2 separate regions of the Homo sapiens genome follow, and region 1 is linked to region 2. The links come from fine-mapping of genetic effects on gene expression. Tissue or cell type: whole blood. Region 2 holds a variant in brackets; the other region holds the start of a gene. All regions are shown on one strand. Distances are from middle to middle.

Evidence for each region. PIP is the estimated chance that this variant, and not a neighbour inherited with it, causes the effect.
Region 1: it holds the start of ULK2, and the variant in region 2 is fine-mapped to the expression of ULK2 in whole blood (INTERVAL, PIP above 0.99).

What each region holds. Positions count from the first base shown.
Region 1 is chr17:19,864,089-19,872,197 of GRCh38, forward strand. ULK2 (unc-51 like autophagy activating kinase 2) reads right to left here and starts at 3,848. Exons shown (of 27, transcript NM_014683.4): 1 at 3,240-3,848; 2 at 1,648-1,740; 3 at 715-756. The coding sequence starts at 3,329. RefSeq lists an enhancer at 2,965-3,473 and silencers at 3,052-3,231, 3,312-3,901.
Region 2 is chr17:19,779,971-19,787,970 of GRCh38, forward strand. ULK2 (unc-51 like autophagy activating kinase 2) reads right to left here. Exons shown (of 27, transcript NM_014683.4): 21 at 5,967-6,116; 22 at 3,727-3,935; 23 at 1,919-2,097; 24 at 1,016-1,134; 25 at 502-659. Among named protein-coding and RNA genes, the nearest start is that of ALDH3A1, 36 kb to the left of the region's middle. The variant G/T (reference allele first, on the strand shown) is at 4,582.

The DNA.
Region 1 (8,109 bases), 84 kb after region 2:
TTGAGCCCAGGAGTTCAAGACTAGCCTGAGCAACACAGAGGGACCCTATCTCTACAAAATAAAAAAAATGTTTTTTTAAAAAAAGAACTTCTATTTAGGCGGGGCGCAGTGGCTCACGCCTGTAATCCCAGTACTTTGGGAGGCCAAGGTGGGAGGATGACTTGAGGTCAGGAGTTCGAGACAAGCCTGGCCAACATGGTGAAACTCCATCTCTATGAAAAACACACACACACAAAATTAGCTGGGCATGGTGGTGCACACCTATAGTCCTAGCTACTCGGGAGGCTGAGGCAGGAGAATCGCTTAAACCCGGGAGGTAGCAGTTGCAGTGAGCCGAGATCAAGCCACTGCACTGCAGCCCAAGAGACAGAGTGAGACTCCATCAAAAAAAAAAAAAGCTCTATTTTTAATTGTCCTTTCAACATTCATCAGAGAATGCTAGATCTGGTATCAACAGTCCTCTACTTCACCTAAAACAATGCTACACCTATAGTGTATTATCAATTGTTAATAAACTTACTCATGCAGCAAATTCTTTCAGCCTATTACTCTGTTCTGTTTTAAACAATTTCTTAATTCAGAAACATGTAACTCAAGCTATGCATCTTTTCAACAAGAATTAAGGTCATTTTTATTTCTATTAAGAGTCACTTAAATCTGTATGAAATTAAAAAAAATTTATTTTAATTTTTAAAAATTTTCAAAATAAGGTACCTGAACATCATAGAGTGCTACAATATTTTCATGCTGAAGTTCCTATTAAGAAAATTGAGAATGAAAAATATGTAAGTATTCTAATGACTTTACTATATTTTAATATGTAAATAAAATTAAAGTATACACATACACTTCTAGTATTATACTTATATTAAGACTATAAAAATTCAATTAAAGAATAAGAAATGTGCCTGATCAAACAAAAAGCACATTATCTCACTGAAAGAAAATATGATTTTTAGCTCAAAGAGCTACAATTCTTAAAAAAGAGCTCTCCACAGGAAGCAGTTTTGAGGAAATCGGGTGTTAAATGAGGGTTCCACGCTTGTATTAGTTTGGAAAACACCAGGTTAAGTACTTTGAAACAAGTTTCTTCATTGTAGAATTTTTCAGACTTTCTTTAATGAGCCATAGGCTTTGTGACTCTCCAAGAAGTATTTAGTAAATGGGGTTTTCCAAACGTACTCAACCATCTTCTCAAACCATCCCACTTAGATAACACTGGTTGTGAGTGATCTAAAAAGGCCACCTCCAAGGAATATAACTTTCTTCAATTTAAAGAAAGACCCCAAGCACCCCTACTCCCCCCAAAAAACTTAGTAGTAACATGAAAGGGGACAACAGGAGAGGTAAAAACAATGTACAAGATGGGTCTGCCTGGCCCTCTTCTCAAACAACAACACAGTCACTAGGAAAAAGAGAAATGATGAGAAGCTAAACTCAGTCTTCACAGAATCCCTCTGAGCTTTGGTTCTTAAAAATAGCTTCCGAGTACTCAATGTTTTAAAAAAGTGAGCATGCAAAAAGGAGAGCAACAGTTGAAAATTCTCAAACTTGGACCCAACTACCAAAATTGAAAAGGATGGCAGCATGTATTCATTTAAATTAAGTTTTAACCTTATATGAATACTACTACATAAAGTAACATACCTTTAAGATTTTAATTTCCTTTCCAAGCAGTATTTGTGATTTTGACAAGTTCTTTTTATTAATACTTTTAATAGCTACCTCCCAATCAGTTTTCTGAAAAGGAAAAACAGTGTTACTCCTAGATACCATTCCACATAAATAACAGAAAAAAATTTACAAGCGCGAAGGTGTTTTTGGCAAATAAATGTACGGCATTGGGGAAAAATGGAATTATTTTCAATAATTGGAAAGTGATTTCATAAATTATAGTGCAATATGCCAAGATCCTACAACACAACTTCTAAAAATAACAAATATGAAGTCCACATGGTAACTAACATTAAATGAAAAAAGAACAGTTCACAACCACTTCAAAGTTATGGACAAATGTAGAAATAAACTTGGAAGGTGATACAGTTAATTGAAAAGTTATTTGTTAGCTTGGAAGGATTACACCGTGCTTGAGTTCTAAATTATTTTCCTAATAAATGAAAAGTAGGCCGGGAGCCGTGGCTCACACCTGTAATCCCAGCACTTTGGGAGGCTGAGGCGGGCAGATCGGATCACCTGAGGTCAGGAGTTCAAGACCACACTGGCCAACGTGGTGAAACCCCATCTCTACTAAAAATACAAAAAAAAAAAAATTAGGCGGGCGTGGTGGCGGGCACCTGTAATCCCAGCTACTCAGGAGGCTGAGGCAGGAGAATCGCTTGAGCCCGGGAGGCAGCGGTTGCAGTGAGCGGAGATCTCGCCACGGCACTCCAGCCTCGGCGACAAAGCGAGACTCTGTCTCAAAAATAAATAAATAAATAAATAAGAAAAGTAGCATTACTTCATCCGATAAGCAACAAAGTCAGCCCACTTTTAACACGCCCCTTGGGCAACAATCAGAACTGCCACACCCTTTAAGATTATTTCCACTCCCGATATGCCTTTCCAAATTCTTTAGATTCTAAAACCTCGTGTAACTGTACTTGCGAAACAGCAAAGGCTTAAAACAATTTTTTTAAGGCTTAAAGGTGATTTCATGTTCAAGGTGATTGAAAATGAATTGTCCAACCACCTTTCTCACCCGGAGCTCGTCTATCTGACTCCGGGGGGGAAAACGGTACGGGGGCTCTTCGGGGTGCAGGGGACCAGTGCTGGGAAAGGTGACACCTCCCAGGCTGCGAAAGCCTGAGGCTAATGGGACATCCGCCCATTTTCCGCTGGGTCTGTAATTATCAACCTCAAAAGTGACCAGCCCTGGGCACGGGGAAAAAAACCAAAGGTCCATTCACGCCCAACCCTCGAGTCTGCACGGTGCAGTACCGTCTATTTTGGGTCCAGGGTAACCTGGGTGCAAACGCTCCTGCGGGCGGACCGCGGGGTGGGCCCCGGGCACACAGGAGGATCAGCAGCAGCCGGTCGGTAGGCGGAGCGCTGCCAGAGGCTTGGGCCTCACAACAACCCTCACAGGACCAAAACAAACGGCGAGACGGGCTGCGCGCACAATAGCATACCCGGGCGGCTAGCCGAGTCGGGGGTCTCGGCTCGCGGCTGCGCCAAGTTTCAGAACCACCTAGCCCCGTGCCTGCCGCCCGGGGCCCGGCCTCGCCCCGGCCGGCGCTCACCTGGCGGTGCCGCCCCCGGAAGACCACGGCGAAGGCCCCGTGTCCCACGAGATCCCTCTTGCTGTACTCGAAGTCACCCACCACCTCCATGGCCGCGCCCCCGGGGCACACAGCGGACGGGCGGGCGGCGCAGTGCGGCGCAGGTATCAGCACCGCGGCTCCGCGGGCCCGGAGCGCGCCAGCGTGCGGCGGGTCTGGGGCAGCCGCAGCCCCGGGCCCGGGCGGACTCTCATGCCGAGAGACCGGAGCGGAAACTGGGGAAGCTGCCGCGCGGAGCCAGGGTCAGCGAGGCCCGGCCCGGCCCCTGCCGCTCATGGCCCGGCCTGCCGCCGGCCGCTGGCTGTCTGGCGAAGCGGCCTCGGCGCTGCCGGGCCAGGGGTGCCGTCACCGTCACTGTGCGCGCCCAGAGCCGCACACGCGCTCTGAGGCAGTGAGGGGCCCGGTACTCTCCATCCCCAGCTCGTCGGGCCTCCTCGGCCCTCCCCGCTCGGGGCGCTGCTGCGACGGCGACGGCCGCCGCCCTAGAACCCGCACCGCCGCGGCCCCGCGCTTCCCCGCCTCGCGGCGGCGCCCAACGCCCTCGCGCGCGCTACCCGCTCCCGCGCGACTGGCTGCCCTCCGCGACGTCCGCGCGCCTTGAAGGCCGCAGCGCCAGCCGGCTCCCTCCGCCGGGGAAAGGAGTGCGGCCAGGGCTTGGCGCCCGCAGCTGGGCAGATCCTCGGCCGCTCCTGAGGCGGGGACGAAGGGCGCGACCCGCTGCGGCCACAGCGGGTTACGGGCTGCGGGCTCCGTTCTGGGCCTGGGGAGCAGATTCGAGCCGACCACGCCCCGGGCTCCAGGCCGCTGGGAGGCGGACTTCAGAGAAGCGGGTCTTGAACCCCAGCTGCAGGCAGGACGGGATTATCTGCGCAGGGTAGACCCCCAGATTCCTGCCAGAGCAAAGGAGCAACTGCTACTCCAGGCTTTGCCCGCGCTCTGGAAAACCAGAGTTCACGCTGCCAAACTGCCAGCCTTCGGACGCCTCTCGGGGTTTACTCGCTTAGGATCCCTAGAGGGACGGTGACAGGCGGGATTCTGCACCTTTTGGGGGTCCCTTGACTGCGAGAAGCTGGTGACAGCTCAGGGCCCTCTTCGCAGAGAATCGTTTCTGCACACCGACTCAGAATCGCACACGTTTTCAAGGTTCTCCTGGGAGCTCCTAGTGTCAGGCTAGTTTGACCTCGGGCTTACTTCACATGGCCGAAGGGAGCTTTCTTTTCTACCTGATTGTTAAAGCTGTCCAAGTGACAAGGAACAGATTGTCAGGTTTCCCGCAAAGAAGTGTCTTATGAAACCATTTAATAAACAATATGCTTGAAACTACCATGGAATACGCAGGCTCCACACTTGAGTGTGTGTTCGGTTGTATAGGGTATGTGCTTTTGGGGTCTGTCACCACCTCGACTGCCACTGCCTGTCCCTGCAAGCTGATCTCTGAACCATGACAGAGTCAGCTCCAGGATTCTGAGAGAACGCTCCTTCCTCACACGCTCAAAACGTAGGGCCTTGAGTTTCTGCTTCTGCTACTGTGCACGCTTACGTTATCCTGTCCTTACTTACATCTGGCCCAGGTGGTTGTGTTAGACACTGAAAATCTGGAGCCTTCAAAAGTTGACAGCAACTTAAGCAAGTTTGCACATACACCCAAAAATGGATGGAGATGATTCCTTACCTCACTGAAAGATTCTCTACAGTCTATTTTTTTGTTTACTTTTTTTTTTTTTTTTTTTTTTGAGACAGAATCTTACTCTGTCACCCAGGCTGGAGTGCGGTAGCACAATCTTGGTTCACTGCAACCTCTGCCTCCCAAGTGCAAGTGATTCTGCTGCCTGAGCCTCCCAAGCAGCTAGAATTACAGGCACGCACCACCACGCCCAGCTAATTTTTGTATCTTAGTAGAGATGGGGTTTCACCATGTTGGCCAGGCTGGTCTCAAACTCCCAACTTCAAGGGATCAGCCTGTCTCGGCCTCTCAAAGTGCTGGGATTACAGGCGTGAGCCACCACGCCCGGCCTGTTTTTTGTTTTGAGACAGAGTCTTGCTCTGTTGCCCAGGCTGGAGTGCAATGGCATGATCTCGGCCCACTGCAGCCTCCGCCTCCTGGGTTCAAGTGATTCTCCTGCCTCAGCCTCCCAAGTATCTGGGATTGCAGACCTGCACCACCATGCCCGGCTAATTTTTTTTTTTTTAGTAGAGGTGGGGTTTCACCATGTTGGCTAGGCTGGTCTCAAAACTCCCAACTTCAAGCGATCCGCCCACTTCGGCCTCCCAAAGTGCTGGGATTATAGGTGTGAGCCACCTCACCTAGCCACATGAAGGTTTTTTGTTTGTTTGTTTGTTTGTTTTGAGACGGAGTCTTGCTCTGTCGCCCAGACTGGAGTGCAGTGGCACGATCTCAGCTCACTGCAAGCTCTGCCTCCCGGGTTCACGCCATTCTCCTGCCTCAGCCTCCGGAGTAACTGGGACTACAGGCACCCGCCACCACGCCCGGTTAATTTTTTGTATGTTTTTAGTAGAGACGGGGTTTCACCGTGTTAGCCAGGACAGTCTCCATCTCCTGACCTCGTGATCCGCCCACCTCGGCCTACCAAAGTGCTGGGATTACAGGCGTGAGCCACTGCGCCCGGCCACATGAAGGTATTTTTCAGAAACCTCCAATAGGCCCTTCGTTTGGACATGCGTGTCCTGTATTCACAGGCCAAACATGGGCCCCATGGACATATCCATTTGAAAAGCAAAATGTGCAGGATTTCTGACCTCAAGAGTCAGAAAAGAAGTGGGGGCAGGAGGCAGGGGGTGCTTTGCTAAAAAATGTTTAGTTAGGACTATGTTGGTAGCAAATAGCAAACGTCAAATGTGATAAAGTGAAAAATAAAGAATGTAGATAAAGATACAGGTGTGCTTCTCAGAGTTCAAAGTTGGGCTTCAAAAGCAAACTACCCGCAGAACCAGGATCTCAAAGAGAACTGCCTTCCGTCTGTGCCCCTGCTTTGTTCTCTTGCCTGAGATCTCCTACATGGTGGCAATGGCAGCCCCAGTCTCCAAACCAAATTTTTTTTTTTTTTGAGACGAAGTCTTGCTCTGTCGCCCAGGGTGGAGTACAGTGTTACGATCTCGGCTCACCGCAACCTCCGCCTTCCAGGTTCAAGCGATTCTCCTGCCTCAGCCTCCCAAGTAGCTGGGATTACAGTTGCGTGCCACTGCACCTAGCTAAAATTTTTTTTGCTTTTTTAGTAGAGGCGGGGTTTCACCATGTTGGCCAGGCTGATCTTGAACCCCTGACCTTAGGTAACCCGCCTGCCTCGGCCTCCCAAAGTGCTAAGATTACAGGCGTGAGCCACTGGGCCCAGCCACCAAATTCTTAAGGAGGGGATTCTGATCAACCTAACTTCAGCTGGGTGCTGGGCCCTGAACAATCATCGGAAGCCAGGAATGGGACTGAGGAAGGCAGGATCATGTAACTATGGCTGCCCCCAACACAAGCCTGTGGGTGTTCTGAGTCCCCAGAAGCAGGGGCCACATAGGCACCCCAGGAAGTGTTCACCCTAGGTCAAATTTAGGCTTCATTTGAGAATGGAGGCCAGGGCAGATTTCTAGTTTACCTCTAAAATCACTGGAAATTGCCAATTTGATTCATGTTCATTGTTCTTAATTTGTCCTGTGTGTGCATATGCATGTGTGTCTAAACATGCTTAACTGTTGAAATGTTTCAATACCAGTTAGTAAATAGAAAAACAGTAACTGCAATGAGAGGTAAAATTAATTACTAATATAGGCCAGGCACAGGGGCTCACGCCTATAATCCCAGCACTTTGGGAGACTGAGGTGGGTGGATCACCTGAGGTCAGGAGTTCCAGACCAGCCTGGCCAACATGGTGAAACCCCATCTCTACTAAAAGTACAAAAAGTAGCCGAGCGTGGTGGTGTGTGCCTGTAATCCCAGCTACTCGGGAGGCTAAGGCAGGAGAATCACTTGAACCTAGGAGGCGGAGGTTGCAGTGAACCAAGATTGCACCATTGCACTCCAGCTTGGATGAGAGGAGCAAAAATCCATCTCACACACATGCACACACACACACACACACACACACACACACACACACACTAGCCAGGTGTGGTGACATTCGCCTGTAATCCTAGCTACTCGGGAGGCTGAGGCAGGAAAGTTGCTTGAACCCGGGAGGCAGAGGTTGTGGTGAACCGGGATCGCACCACTGCACTCCAGCCTAGGTGACAAATGAGACACTGTCTTAAAAAAAAATTAATTACTAATATAAATTCTAATATAAACTGTTTAGTTTATCATCCAGTGCTATAGAAATGTTCTGATGATAAAAGGTATCCTGTGAAAATAAATGTGAGAAATATTCTGCTGGGCAGGGAGGCATTCCAAGATGCAGGAGAATAGCCAGTTTATTATTATCTTCAAATTACATCATTGCTATTCCTTCTATTTTGGTTCTATTGTTTCTACTTTGATGACATTGCTGATGCTTTGAAATTCTTGTGAATAGTTAGGGTGCAGTGCTTTGATATTTATAAATGCAAGAATTTACAATAAAATACGAAAAATAAGCACAAAAAAGGAAGCAATAACAAATTTTTAGTATGTTTTTTAAAGTTTTAAAAAATACCATAATGACAAATCTTCTGAATAATAAATGTAAATTTTCTGAAATGATATCAGTAACAAAGTTCAGCCTAGGAATATTTTGATGCAATGCAAAAAACAAACAAACAAACAAAAACAGCAGGGAGCATCTTTTTATATTGTGCAAAAATCAGTATAAAATTTGGCCAGGCGCGGTGGCTCACGCCTGCAATCCCAGCA
Region 2 (8,000 bases):
GGAAACCACCCTGGCCAACATGGCAAAACCCCATCTCTACTAAAAATACAAAAATTAGCTGGGCATGGTGGCAAGTGCCTGTAATCCCAGCTACTCAGGAAGCTGAGGCAGGAGAATCACTTGAATCTGGGAAGCAGAGGTTGCAGTGAGCTGAGATCGTGCCACTGTACTCCAGCCTGGGCGACAGAGTAACTCCGTCTCAAGAAAAAAAAAAAAAGAAAAAAAAAAGATTAGATCATGCCTAATGCCAGCAATGTTTAATAAGAGCTGTAATAAACTTATAGCAAATGTGGTAAACGGATTTGTAATTACTTAAAATACATCCAGTAAATGACATTAACAGTTGCTTAAATCCAATTACTTCTTTAGTAGAAGGCAATCCACAATACTTGGGACTTGAGACATTATCTTTTAAAAGGATAGCTGTCATATAGATATTCAATTAAAAAGACACTTAAAGATAAGTAGTACTATACAATATTAAACCTTAGAAAGGGTTACCATTTCTACAGCACAATTATAGATGAGTTTCTCTGCAGTCACACTGTTGATTTCATCAATAAACCTCTGTTTGTCAGAGAAGAATCGATTCAGCTTTTCTGTAAGTTTCTTGCACATGGTGATGCAGAATTTATATCGTTCGTTCAGATTCTTGACAACTGAAAAAAAATTGAGATGGGAACTAATTTTAATTTTCCTCCAGAAATAAAGACACAGTTATATGTATCTTTCCTGCTGATATATAGGGAAGGTGTCACTATGTGATCATTCAAAAAAAGGACCAGAAATAGGATTTTTTCATGTTATCTCTTTCAATATGAAAAGATTGAGAATAATGCACTTCAGACTTCTATCAATTGAACTGCAAAAAGCTAACAACCCAGCATCTTTTCCCTTTAAGAATACTGAAAAATAAAAACAACAGTGAGTACTCATCAGACACTCTCTCACAGTGTGATGGGAAAGAGCAACTTAAGGACTGACCCCTGGAGTTACACGCTGCCTTCTCCCATACCTTGTTTCACAGCTGTGGATGGGCTCAGTTTCCCGGACTTGATCTGGGCTTTGGCAAGATGCAGAGAAGCCGCAAGCAGCTGTGCTGCTTTCATGTACAACACCAGCTGCTCCACCCGCCTGCACCCAAAAGACAGTAGCAGAGGGTTATCTTGTGAACTAATGTAAGATGTGGCACTCTACACAACAGGTCACCATTAAAATTGCCTTTCTATAAAGGAATAGCATCCTCTTTGATTTCTTTTCTTCTTTCTTTTCTTTTTTTTTTTTTTTTTTTGACAGAGTCTTGCTCTGTCCCCCAGGCCGAAGTATAGTGGCTTGATCTTGGCTTACTGCAGCCTCTACTTCCTGGGCTCAAGGGATCCTCCCACCTCAGCCTCCCGAATATTAATAGTTGGGACCACAGGGACGCACCACCATGCCCGGCTAATTTTTGTATTTTTTGTAGAGACAGGGATTCATCATATTGCCCAGGCTGGTCTCGAACCCATGGGCTCAAGCAATCCTTCTGCCCCATCCTCCCAAAGTGCTGGAATTACATATAGGCATAAGCTACTGCGACCAGCCCTCCTTAATTTCTTAATGCACAAGTAAACTCTCAAGGGACAAGGCATAGTTAAAGATGTGTGTACTGTGAAAATAACGGATACACTCAGATAAAAATCAATACAATCTATTTACACAAAAGAACTTCAACAGTATAATTTACAAGGAAAGGCAACACTGAGGTTGCATAATCTCCAGGTCTTGGCTCATATAGTGAAATGTAGTACAAAGAAATAATTGAGACTCCTAGCTTTTAATAATGAGATATGATCTTCAGTGGATGACAATACCTACAACTTAGACACAAGTTTAGACAAAGCATGAAAAGTCTGGAAATGAATGACAAGGGGGCACCCACCCCCAGTCTTTGCTCAGCTGACTGATCTGGTCCACCACCACACTCTCCTGGATCTGGTACAAGGACACAGCAGATGTGCACAGCTCAGGGTTTCCTCCCCTCATGGCTGTCAGGTCCAGCACACACTCAGTGAACATCAGCATCACATTCAGATGGCGTAAGGTGTCTGTGTGTTCCCGCTGCAGCAAAGTCAATTTGTCTTAGAAAATTTCAGATTAAAAATACGTACATACTCATTTCTGTACATAAACCATGGCCGCTGATCATGTTTTCTATACTTATGAGTATCAGAATGACAAAAGGAGATTGAAATTTTTAAATTTCAGAAAGCTGGTAAGAAAATGAACACAAATGAAACCAAATATAGGTATATGCATGTGTTTGTGTATGTGTATCAGAGTACCCACATAAGTAAACTCAGGATGGGTCGCTGTGCTTTTACCAGAAAAAGAAAAGAAAGCTGAACGATTAAATCAATATACATGAGACAAAAACGTGACAAGGTAGACACAAAGATTACAAGGATACTATAGGTGCTAAATCACACTTCTTGATACTGTATTGAATTCTGCTGACTTCTTATAATTTCAGAGTTGCTTTATTTAATTTCTGGTCGTTTTTCAGTTAACAGTGATTACTAATACCAAAGCTCTAACTTTCTGTGATCTTTTCAGTTAGTTAAAGAGGGGAGTGTGGGTAGACATAACAGCATTCAGAGGGCTGTCATTTAAAAATGGGCATTCTAGGCCGGGCATGGTGGCTCATGCCTGTAATCCAAGCACTTTGGGAGGCCAAGGCGGGTGGATCACCTGAGGTCAGGAGTTTGAGACCAGCCTGGCCAACATGGCGAAATCCCGTCTCTACTAAAAATACAAAAATTAGCTGGGCGTGGTGGCATGTGCCTGTAGTCCCAGCTCCTCAGGAAGCTGAGGCAGGAGAGTGGCTTGAACCCAGGAGGTGGAAGTTAGAGTGAGCTGAGATCGCACCACTGCATTCCAACCTGGGTGACAGAGCAAGACTCTGTCTCAAATAAACAAACAAACAAACAAACAAATAAATAAATAAATAAATGGGTATTCTAGATTGTTGTTTTGAGATTTGTTTTTAGTTATAAATGCATTCTGAAATCTCAAGCCTAAAAGTTTCCCACTCTTTTATGGTTAAATAAAGATGAGAATCATTTTCCTAGTGACAGGAGAATAAGCCAATTGACTTCTAAAAGTCTCTCTGCTCTGTGACAGCATATTGCACTGTATGTTTCAATACACTGGAACATGCAATAGAATGTACTAGAATGCTCACGCCTGTAATCCTAGCACTTTGGGAGGCAGAGGTGGGCAGATCACAAGGTCAGGAGTTCGAGACCCGCCTGGCCAACATGGTGAAACCCCGTCTCTACTAAAAATACAAAAATTAGCCGGGCATGGTGGCGTGTGCCTGTAATCCCAGCTACTCGTGGGGGCTGAGGCAGGAGAATTGCTTGAACCCAGGAGGCAGAGGTGGGAGTGAGCCGAGATTGCACCACTGCACTCCAGCCTGGGTGACAGAGCAAGACTCTGTCTCAAAAAAAAAGAAAGAAAGAAAAACACAGAATCTATGTGTTTCTTCCTATAAACCAAAGCTTATTATGGATGAGTGTCACTGTCAATGTTAATTTAAAAAGACATCAGCAATACTTTTCAAACAGAAAAGGCACGTTAAAGAGAACATAACTTCCTAACTATTTAATGTATTTTGTTCTTGTCATCACTAGAATGTTCTCATATCAAATCAACATTACATTCACACCACTATAGTCTCTTTTCTACCTCCATCAGCGTCTCCTCCGGCAGTTCAGGGGCTTCAAAGGTGATGAGCCCCTCTAGGCTGGGGGGTGAAGCACCGTAAGGCACGTATCTCAGGCTGGGAGCTGCCTCTGCTCCTGGAGGGGAAGAGCCGAAGCCTGGGCCAGGCGGGGACCCCACGCACACGCGGCCACTCATGGCACAAAGAGAGCCCCCGGAGTTGCTGGGCCCCACTACAAGGAAACAGAGGATACATGGCAGTGTCCAGAGTTAGGGCTTTCACACCCACTCCTACTCTTATTTACTAAACAAACCTGCTGAGGTGACAAAGGAAAGTTTCGTTAAAAGAAACTCACTGACCCCCTATGTACTATTTGAGGATATTAATAGTTTTTACTTATCCATGTTCATTGTTATTCCTTGTCTATATATTTTATATTAGACATCATCAGAGCTAGTTTTTTTATACTCTGTTTTAAACAAATTTAGATCATATTCATTTCTCCTTGCTGCTCCACAGGGCCTCATAATTATAAAACTCAATGGATGCACTGATTCATTAAATTTATATATATTATATAATGTTTATCTGGAGTCATTTATACTATTTCTGATTTTATTCATATTACAAATAGCACTGTAATGAAATGCAGACAGTTGTTCCTTCTTTTGAATAATTTCTTTGTGATAAATACTCTGAAGTGGTATAAGAAGGAATGGAATTAGCATAGATCAATAAATATTTTTACAGCTCTTCCTAAGAACTGTTATAGTACTCTCTAACGCAGCCCTGAGTAAGCACATAGATCCTACTAAACCTCAATAACACTGGACATGATACTTTTTTTTTTTTTTTTTTTTTTTTTTTTTTGAGTCAGG[G/T]TCTTGCTGTTGCGCAGGCTGAATTGCAGTGGCGTGATCACAGCTCACTGCAGCCTTGATTTTCTGGGCTCAGGTAATTCTTTCACCTCAGCCTCACAAGTAGCTGGGACTATAGGCGTATGCCACCATGTCTGGCTAATTTCTGTATTTTTTTTGTAGAGATGGGGTTTCACCATGTTGCCCAGGCTGGTCTCAAACTCCTGACCTCAAGTGATCCTCCTGCCTCGGCCTCCCAAAGTGCTGGGATTACAGGCATGAACCACCATGCCCAGTCTTGGGCATTGTACTTTTTAAGATATAGGTATAGTTAACAGATATAAAATGTTACTTTCGTAAAATGGTATTTTCTTATTATTCAAGGTTTTTAATCGTCTTAAAAACATAATTTTAGATCTATTTTCTCTTATCTATTTCTATCCTTTGCTTATTAACCTGGTCTCTTGATCAGCAACTTATTTAGAATAAGATAACTTGACTCATGATACAACAGATAAGACATCAAATTATTGATTTCAAGTCCAATCTAAATACTTTCTTAAGTTTTGGTATTAACCTATTTACAGATTATAAATGATAAATCTATTAGCCTTCTAACTGTATATAGGATTAAGTGCAAAGATTGAGACCCAAAGTACAAAAAATTAAAAATAAATAAATAAAACAAGTTTCTTTCTTTTCTGAAACAGAGTTTCGCTCGTTACCCAGGCTGGAGTGCAATGGCGCAATCTCGGCTCACTGCAACCTCCACTTCCCAGGTTCAAGTGATTCTCCTGCCTCAGCCTCCTGAGTAGCTGGGATTACAGGTACCTGCCACCACACCTGCCTAAATTTTTGTATTTTTAGTAAAGACAGGTTTTCACCATGTTGGCCACGCTGGTCTCGAGTTCCTGGCCTCAAGTGATCTGCCTGCCTCAGCCTCCCAAAGTAAGTGCTGGGATTACAGGCATAAGCCACCTCACCTAGCCAAAACAAGTTTCTTTAAAAAAAAAAACCAAAAAAAAACCAAACCTATAATTTTCAAATAATTTATTGGATCTACTAAAGTAACCCTTTAATATATAAGCTGAGAAGAACCATATACGATTTGCTTCTTCACGAAGAAGTCATATTTATACTATATGTCATTTTGTAAAAACATATACAACATATATTTATATTTTAATATATAATATAGCACTTTACAAAGTTTTTTTCCCCACAAATGATGCCTCATTTACTTCTTATAACCCATTAAGATAAAGAAAATAGTAATCTCCATTTCACTGGTAAAGAAACTGAAGCCCAGAGAATTAAGTGACTTGTCCAAGTTACAACACTGAGTCATTTGTCAAAACACTACATTCCAAATACTAGCCAAAGACTGTAATATAACAAATGCTCCTTACCTGAGGTTGTTCTTGTTCGAAGGAACATGTGGGTACAAGTGGGGGCTGCCGCACTGTGTGGAGGAGACCCTACAGTGAAGAGGACAGCCTTGGAACTTGCTGCTGTACCTGCAGGAGGTGCCAGAACACCACCACAGGCTCCTGCCGGAGCTACAACAAAAAGTTTATAGAAGGTCATATTACCCTGATAGTGTTTATATCTGGGAGATGGGATTGCAGGGGGATACTGACTTTTATATCAGGAGTCTAGTGGTTTTTTTTTTTTCCCTCTTCTTACAAAAAGTACTTATTGCTCTTAAAATCAGAAAACGTAATACAATATTTTCATTAAAATAACTTATAGTAATCTCAAGTGTGAATCTTCTTCACACCAAAATTTAGCATTCAGAGTTATGTTTGTATACTTCTAAAATACATGAACTGTAAGTTATACATGTTGAAGACAGTACTAAAAAAATGAACGCCAAGAACTGGGAATAAAAACAGGTTAAACTAGGGTAGGTGTGGTGGCTCATGCCTGTAATCCCAGCACTTTGGGAGGCCAAGGCGGGTGGATCACCTGAGGTCAGGAGTTCGAGACCAGCCTGGCCAACGTGGTGAAACCCTGTTTCTACTAAAAATACAAAACTTTGCCGGGCATGGTGATGCGTGCCTGTAATCCCAGCTACTCAAGAGCCTGAGTCAGGAGAATCTCTTGAACCCAGGAGGCAGAGGTTGCAGTGAGCTGAGATCATGCCACTGCACTCCAGCCTGGGTGACAGAGTGAGGCTCCGTCTCAAAAAAAAAAAAAAAAGAAAGAAAAGAAATCAAAATAAAGACATTCCCAAATAAACAGAAGCTGAGAGAATTTACTGCCAGCAGACCTGTCTTACAAGAAATACAAAGGATAGCTCTTCAGACCAAAAGTAACTAACTCCAAATAGTAATCCCAATCTGTAAAGATAATTACAAAACACAAACTGTATATTTCTTCTGTTAACTGATTTTAAAAAGCAACTGTATAAAACATGTATACAGTTGCACTGTCAGGTCTATAGCATATAGAAATGTAATGTTCATTTATTTACTTTTTTTTTTTTTGGAGACGGAATCTCACTCTGTCGCCAGGCTGGAGTGCATTGGCACGATCTCAGCTCACTGCAACCTCTGCCTCCTGATTCTCCTGCCTCAGCCTCTCGAGTAGCTGGGATTACAGGTGCGTGCCACCACGCCCAGCTAATTTTTGTATTTTTAGTAGAGACAGGGTTTCATCATGTTGGCCAGGATGGTCTCGATCTCTTGACCTTGTGATCCGCCCGCCTTGGCCTCTCAAACTGCTGGGATTACAGGCGTGAGCCACTGCGCCCAGCCTTAGTTTTTATTTTTTTAGAGACAGGGTCTCCACCTGTCACCCAGGCTGAAGGGCACTGGTGTGACCATAGCTCACTGCAGCCTGGAACTCCTGAGCTCAAGTGATCCTCCTGCCTCGGCCTTCCACAGTGTTGGGATTACAGGCGTGAGCCACTGCACCCAGCCAGAAATATATTTGATAATAAGAACATAAAGGAGTCAGATGGGAGTAAAACTATATTAGAGTAAGGAAGTGACACCAGATGGTAACTCAAATCCACAAAAACACACCAAGATAACCAGAAATGATAAGTAAGAAAGTTAATATAACAAACTATAAATACATACTTGCTTTCTTATCTCAGCTTCTTTTCAAAGACATAAAATTACAAACCAGAGTAAGATGGCAAAATAGAAGGCTCCACCAATTGTACAACCCACCTCCCAAAAATTTGCACACAATAAAGCACCTTCATAAGAACCAAAAATCAGGTGAGTAATCACAGTACCTGGTTTTAACTTCATATCACTGAAAGAGGCACTGAAGAGGGTAGGAAAGGCAGTCTTGAATCACCAGCACCACCCTCCGCCCCTCCCCTGGCAGCAGCTGTGTGTGGCAAGGAAATAATCTGTGTACTTGGGGGAGGGAGAGTGCAGCAATTTGGGGATTGCACATTGAACTCAGTGCTGTCCTGTCACAGTGCA